Homo sapiens: one gene and its partner. The protein of the gene in region 2 interacts with the protein of the main gene of each other region in a pairwise test. Each region holds a gene or a part of one and is shown on either strand. Other genes may lie near its edges.

What was found. Proteins that work in one complex are often made in the same cells at the same time.
Region 1: the proteins of LRRC39 (region 2) and MYH7 interact in binary tests that used the Homo sapiens proteins (3 or more experiments, as listed by UniProt).

What each region holds. Positions count from the first base shown.
Region 1 is NC_000014.9:23,421,912-23,425,660, forward strand, and holds part of MYH7 (myosin-7), read right to left. Parts: intron 3,508-3,749; coding exon 3,371-3,507; intron 3,114-3,370; coding exon 2,858-3,113; intron 2,239-2,857; coding exon 1,996-2,238; intron 1,813-1,995; coding exon 1,636-1,812; intron 415-1,635; coding exon 269-414; intron 1-268. UniProt on the Homo sapiens protein: Myosins are actin-based motor molecules with ATPase activity essential for muscle contraction. Forms regular bipolar thick filaments that, together with actin thin filaments, constitute the fundamental contractile unit of skeletal and cardiac muscle.
Region 2 is NC_000001.11:100,176,748-100,180,496, reverse strand, and holds the start of LRRC39 (leucine-rich repeat-containing protein 39), read left to right. Parts: upstream 1-2,240; 5' UTR 2,241-2,362; exon of another isoform or gene 2,363-2,379; intron 2,380-3,749. UniProt on the Homo sapiens protein: Component of the sarcomeric M-band which plays a role in myocyte response to biomechanical stress. May regulate expression of other M-band proteins via an SRF-dependent pathway. Important for normal contractile function in heart.

The DNA.
Region 1 (3,749 bases), on a different chromosome or scaffold from region 2:
GCTGTTATTTTCATTCCCACTGAGTGCCTAACAAGAAGAAAGGACTCATGGGATACAATGGACTTTTTGCCAGGGAGGACCATCTAACTAACCCTGATATCTGGGACTAGGGGAGGAAAGCCCTTGCCTGGGAGGCCTTTTCCCATGGTTTGCGCCTCCACTTGTGGAGGCTGCGTGAGGTTGTTGCCTCAGAGGATGGCTGTCTTGGGTCTGCTTGTACTGTTATGGGCTGGGGAGGAGGAAGGGCAGCAGGGAGGGGACACAGTACTTTTTCAGCCGCTCATCCAGCTGCTGCTTGTCATTCTCCAGGTCCATGATGCTCTCCTGGGTCAGCTTCAGGTCGCCCTCCAGCTTCCGCTTCGCTCGCTCCAGGTCCATGCGCACCTTCTTCTCTTGCTCCAGGGATCCTTCCAGCTGGTAGAGAGAAGGAGCCAGGCCCAGTGAGGCAAAGCATCCTGACTTGGTGATTTTGTTGTTCAGTTACCTCAGGACTTGGTAAATCTTTGTGTTCAGGACTTGGGAAACCTTCCCCAGAGTGGGCCAAATGTTATTAGGGGACTGTGAGATTGCCTAGATATAGGGGATGCTGAATCAATATTTTATAGATAAAGGAATAAATGACTGTGGGATGAAACCCCAAAGCCGTATTCTTTCTTTCTTTCCCTTTCTTTCTTTCTTTCTTTCTCTCCTTTCTTTCTCTCCTTCCTTCCTTCCTTCCTCCTTTTTTTTTTTTTTTTTTTTATGGAGTCTCACTCTGTCGCCAGGCTGGAGTGCAGTGGCGCGATCTCGGCTCACTGCAACCTCCGCCTCCCTGGTTCAAGGGATTATTCTGCCTCAGCCTCCTGAGTAGCTGGGACTACAGGCGCACGCCACCACATCCAGCTAATTTTTGTATTTTTAGTAGAGATGGGGTTTCACCATATTGGCCAGGATGGTCTCGATCTCTTGACCTCGTGATCCACCCGCCTTGGCCTCCCAAAGTGCTGGGATTACAGGTGTGAGCCACCGCGGCTGGCCGCCGTATTCATTCTTTCAGCATCCTATAAACACCTACTGGGCATCAGGCTCTGTGCTAAGCACTGCAGTCCCCAAATTGAATAGATCTAAGTTCCTATCTAAAGGAAGCTTGTAGTCTTATGGCTGAGATAGAAGCTTAAATAATTAAAATACAGAGTGATAAGTGAGTCAACAGACATATGTGCATCAGAGGGAACAATGATCAGATTCTGCCTTAAATATTGGAATTTCAAAAATTCTACTTGGGGAGCCTCACAAAATTTCCAAAGAAATTTATCATGTTCTTATGAGATGACCCTCTAAATCTTGTGTCAAAGGCAGAGATATATGGGATTGCACTTAAATTAAATAAGAAAACTCATCTCTATTATTGATCATACCAGTGAGATTAGATACATAATTCAGAATTGATCACCACCTCTGACTTTTCATTCCCCAGCTCCTTTCTAGAAAGATATCAGAAAAGTTAACATCCTCTAACCCTACCCCCCTCTAAACATAAACACAAACACACACACACACACACACACACACACACACACACACACACACACACACAGAGCTCTGGGCACAGATAGACATGGCATATCTAGGCCCCACAACTCTCAATCTACTCACATCATCCACTTGCTGCTCCAGCTTGACTTTGGCCTTAGTCAGGGTGTTGACCTTGTCCTCCTCGGCCTGAAGGTCATCCAGAGCCTGTTGGTGGGCCTCTTGCAGAGCTTTCTTCTCCTTGGTCAGCTTGGCAATGATCTCATCCAGCCCAGCCATCTCCTCTGTCAGGTTTTTCACCTGCCGACCAAGAATCCCATCTCCTTTAGGGTCAAAGGTCACCAGCTTGGTGCCATCTGTGGGGAGCTCCATGTCAAGGTCCATGCTGCTCTCTGGATGCCGAGTGGCTAGCCTGGGTCAAGGTCAGTATGGTCTGAGAGTCCTGATGAGACCCGGGCTGGAGCCAAAGGGAGCTGCCCTTACCTTGTTCTCTGTTGCGTGTTTCTCCTTCTCCACTTTGGCCAGTGTCAGCTCCAGATCATCGATGTCCCTTTTGAGCTCTGAGCACTCATCTTCCAGCTTGCGCTTCTTGGCAGTGAGCTCAGCATTCATCTCCTCCTCATCCTCCAGCCTCTCGTTCATCTCCTTCACCTTGGCCTCCAGCTGAATCTTGTTTTTGATCAGCTGATCACAGCGCTCCTCAGCATCTGCCAGGTTGTCTTGTTCCTGAAGGTGAGGAACAGAGGGGAGGCTGTTCAGGGGGTAAGGTCCTCATTCTTGCAGGTAGAGGGAAGGAGAGGCACATCACTCAAATAGGAGGGTAACTCTAGGATATCCCCACTTGGCAAGAGCTTCAGAAGTATGGGGAGGGGAAGAGTTTCAGGATAGTATAACTTGGGAACACTGGGGAGGGGAGCAGAGAGGAAAGGAACCAGAAATCTTCATCTGGACCTCTTCCTCTGGTCTCCTCCATCGAAGGGTGGGAATTGCATTTGCTGATGCCAAGCACTTATGTATGATGGCTTAATGAAATGGACAGCTTTATTCCCTGTCTAGAGGAAATTGAGGCTCAAAGATGATGCATGGTCTGCCCAAGGTCACAAAATAATTAAGCTGTGTATCTAGGTTGAACCCAAGTAGAAAGCCTGTGCTTTTAAAAGTCAGCTCTTTTCCCTCTGCCCTTTCCTCCTCCTGAGGGACCTCTTTGGAGGTCTTTAGAAGTGTTGATCCCAGAGTCCTCTGACTGAAGGAACAAGACAGTGAGCCCCTGTGCAGGGAGGTGCAGGGTTGTGGGAAGTGAAGGCAGAGCAGGGTGGAAGAGCCAACAGTAGCCCAGGAGCCTCACCGCCTGCACTTGGAGCTGCAGGTCATTCTTCTCCTGCAGCAGGGACACCATCTTCTCCTCCAGCTCCTTGCGGCGAGCCTCGGACTTCTCTAGCGCCTCTTTGAGGCGTGTGAACTCCTCCTTCATGGAGGCCATCTCCTTCTCTCTTTCTGCACTCTTCAGCAGCGGCTTGATCTTGAAGTAGAGCTTCATCCAGGGCCAATTCTTGACCCCCATGAAGGCCCGAATGTTCCACTGGATTACCAGCAGGGAGTCTCTGCAGGGGCCCATTGAAAGGAGTGCTGAGCCTCCTGCCTCCTTCCTACCTGAGGTCCTGAAACCTTGGGAATATCCCATTTCCTTCATCCCTCCCACCCTTCCTGAGGCCTCTGACCCTGTGACTGCAGTGTGTTCATATGAGCCCCTCCTGCAGGTCTCTGTGTTTGAAGATCTGCTGAGCTTTTTTTCCTGACACTGCCCCTGAACCAGCCTGGGCCTCAGAGAAGCGGGAAACCTCCTCTTGAGATCTCTCACCTACGTTCCAGCAGCTTTTTGTACTCCATTCTGGCGAGCACACCTCGGGACTGGGCCTGGATACGCGTGATGATGCGGCTCAGCCTCTCGTCCCTCATTTCCTCCAGCAGCCCCAGCAGCCCGGCCTTGAAGAACACCTGCAGGCAAGGTGTGTGTTGGCCATGACTAGGGAGGGGTACGAGGGAAAGAGATGGTGGGGATTACCTTAGGAAGGGTAACAGCCTAGAAAAGGATTGCAGGGAGGAGGTCAATGGCAGCTGGAGCTGGGATGAGGGGAGTGGTGCTAGATGTTCCACTGGGAGGGGTAGCATACAGGTAAGAGATTTTGCTAAGATGATTACAACAGGAAAAGCATCAGAGGAGTCAATGGAAAAGAGAT
Region 2 (3,749 bases):
CATGTCGTAGCCTTTGTCAGAATTCCAGAATTACATTACAGTACTTGCCTAGTAAGGGAGTTGCTGCTGCTGACCCCAGAACCAGCTACATCTGCTGAGGCTAGGCAACTTTTGCTGCCAAAACAAACCCCAGAACATACTGCCTTTGCTGCTACCCATGCCAGCAAAAATGGACACCAGCGACACAAGTCACCCAACAGAGCCCTTTGTTGGTGTATATAATTAGTGGAACCTTAGTAGTGTATAAAATTAGTCACATACCCCATTCCAGTAGCAGGGGAGGCTGGGATTTCTTTTCCCCCTCAAATTCTACCTTGGAAAGGTAGGATTCATGATGTGGGGGATTATAAAAATGTGGATGGTGTTCAAAATATTTTGGACAGTCGTAAATGACAGATAGATATTCATTATATAGTGCCTGTCTCTTTGCATTCACTTTCTACATCCCTCCAAAGTCACCAAAATTCTGGCTAATTTGTGTCATAAATAGCTCAGGCATCTATTCACTTTCCCTATCCTCCCGGGCATTTCTTTAGTGTAAGTCACTCCATGGGGATGGGAAATAAAAGGTAGATAAGGGAAGGAGAAGAGAGATGCCTTGAAATTTGTGGGTTCTCTATAAATACTGTCAAATTAAAATTTAATTGTACGTAGTGCCAAAGGCAGAAAGAAATCTTAATTTTCTCCAAGGTAACAATATACTGTTCTTTTTAACTGAAACAAAACTCCCTGGATCTCTCTCTCTCTCTCTCTCTTTTTTTTTTTTTTTCTTCAGACAAGGAAGGCTCTGTTGCCCAGGCTGGAGTGCAGTGGCACCATCACAGCTTGACCTCCCTGGCTCAAGGTATCCTCCCACCTCAGTCTCCCAAGTAGCTGAGACTACATATACACACCACTACACCTGGCTAGTTTTATTTTATTTTATTTATTTTTATTTTTATGGAGACAGGGCCACCATGCCTGGCTACTTTAATTTTTTTTTTTTTTTTTTTTTTTTGGTAGATACAGGGTCTCACTCTGTTGCTCAGGCTGGTCTCCAGCTCCTGGGCTCAAGTGATCCTACCATCTTGGCCTCTCAAAGTGCTGGGATTACAGGTGTGAGATCTTGATTTTTACTTATGAACACATGCAAGCACTCTGTATGTGTTGGGTGGTGTACACTCTCGGGACAGGGAAGTTAGAGTTTCAATTGTGGCCATGGCTTCTTTACTCTTTCTGTGATCTTGAGCAGTCCCACAACTCTTAGAACTTAATTCATTATAGAAGTGTTGGAGAATTTCTGTGAGATAATCAGGCATAAATTTTTAAAGCATTAATATTGCTGAGATGTCCAAATGACTACATAAATTATGATCCACCTACACGCTAAACTGCTATGTAGCCATTAAAAAGAATGACGCTGCTCTAAATATACTAATATGAAACAGTTTCCAAGATATCCTGAGTGAAGAAAAGACAGTATAGAACAATGTATATAGTATGCTACCATTTTTGTATGTGTGCATGCCTTCACATATGTGTGCTTTTAAGGGATATAGGCATATTTAAGCTCGTAAATTCATAGACCATCTTTGTAAAGGTACACAAAGAACTGGCAATAGTGGTTGCCTTCAGAGAAGAGAACTTGAAGAGAACCTCCCTACTGGAGGCAGGGATGGTGGAAGGGGTGGGGGATGGAGAGAGTGGAGATTGAGCTTTTGAATTCTGTTCCATGTGCATATATTATAAATTCAAAAAAAGATATAGTTTATTTTTTAAGAACCTGGAATTAAGTCCTATCTATGAAAGCTGAAGAGATCAAAGTGAGAGGTAATTTAATTTGAAGCCCAGGTACAGCAGAAGTTTGGGGCTTCTGTGTTACTCATGCTTATCCACACCTTTATTTTTTCTTTTTCTAAAGCATCTGGGTCTTTAGTTCAAATATTTGCAGATCCATGGTTTACTGGGTAGAATTTTTGTTGTGGCATACATCAACATATTCCAAGTTTCTCTGCTTGGATGGAATAGATGCATGAAATTCTGTGAAATGATTAAGCTGTGAAAAGTAGAAGGACTTTGAATAGGCATTATTTTTCAAGATCTTAGAAATAGTTATGCCTGATAGTTTTATAATGTCTGTAGCGTATTTTGCAGTCCACAGAACGCACTCACATACATTATCAGCTGATCCGTCGCAAAGAAGCCTCATGTGATTCTTTCTATTCTCAGCTTTGTCCATGAACTAAAATTAGAACTAGGCTGACATTACATTTCACTTGGTTACAGCTGACTGGGGATTTTAATCATTTGGAGCCACACTGAAAAAAAAATTTCCCCCTGCAATCTACTCTTAACTGATAGTCGCTAACTTTGGTTATGTGTGGTAAGTATTTGACAATGGTAAGTATTTTTCAAAAACATTTTTCCTTTCTTCTTCACATGTAAATAGATTGCTGCTGATACCTATACTGTGTCTGTATTGGTTGGAATGTCCAAACAAACTGGAATAGAATTTAAAAGTTTTTTTGCGGGGTGTTCATGGTCACTCATATAATTGTGCTCCTCTGGAAGATAGATTTCCCCAGAAGTAAGAAACAATTCTTCTGCAATTCTTTTCTATGCTTACCTCACTTGTCACATTATGTGCTTTTTTTCTATTATGGTACTAATCAGAGTAGAGAGCAGTCCTGTGCTGGAGGAAGAAATATATCATTATTGACTTGTGTTTCCCTAGGGGAAGTTGGTTGTTATAGGAAAACTGATGGATGAGCAACATTTAATGGCAAATGAGGAAATGAATTAGCAAATGGATGAATTGTTTTACATGTCTTCTAAAATACATGTATACATGTAGATACTTGGGAATTCAAAAATATTTTTATTCGAGTATTTAGCAAAAACTTCAAACTTTCTTAAATTAGAGACAATAAATTGTAAATTGGTTGCAATATGCTCAGGAAGTTGGATTACCAGTGTATGTATCCCAAGGTTTCTTCACAGCAAAGAGATCTCGCATTCTGTTCCTGAGTAAATTCGGCATGCCTTGCTTAGAGATTCTCTCAACAATTTCCTGCCTATGCCAATTATTTATCAATCTTGAAATTTTAAACTTTTTTCTGTAATATAGTTCTCCTCTTTCTTTGACTGTCTCACACACATATATACTGCATAATATTAGTTTAAAAAATCAATAATTTAGAAGAGGTTAATAATGAAAAGCAATATTATCTATCCGATTCCTCTCTATCACCAGTCCTGCTCCCTAGAAGTAATCATTTTAACCATTTTGGAATTTAGTTTTCAGTGGTTATCTCCATATTTCTCTCTTTTTTTTCTTTTTCAAAGACAATTGCATGCTATTTTTAATCAACTTTAAACATCTGTGGAGCTTCATTATGAGAGGTGGGGATTAAGTTCCCTTACACTGCCATAGAGTTATATCCCTATTTTTAGCTTCTCTCTTGATTACCTTAATAACTTTAAGCAAATACTTTAATCTTTATTTCTTGTTCCATAAGGTACAGACAGTATCTGTTGATTCCCCACTTCGAAGATGTGGATATCGGTGTTCTTATCATTTACTTCTTTTCCTTATTTCCTTCTTCCATATTCTGTTAAAAGTACTGTCACTTTTATGTTTTCAAGATATATGGCATTTATATTCTGTTCTGTAACCCTCAATAAGTCTTCCTTACTTTTTTATAGATTGATTTATTTCAAAAGTTTAAGACCAATACATAGACTTTACTATGTAATTTCTGTTTTCTGCA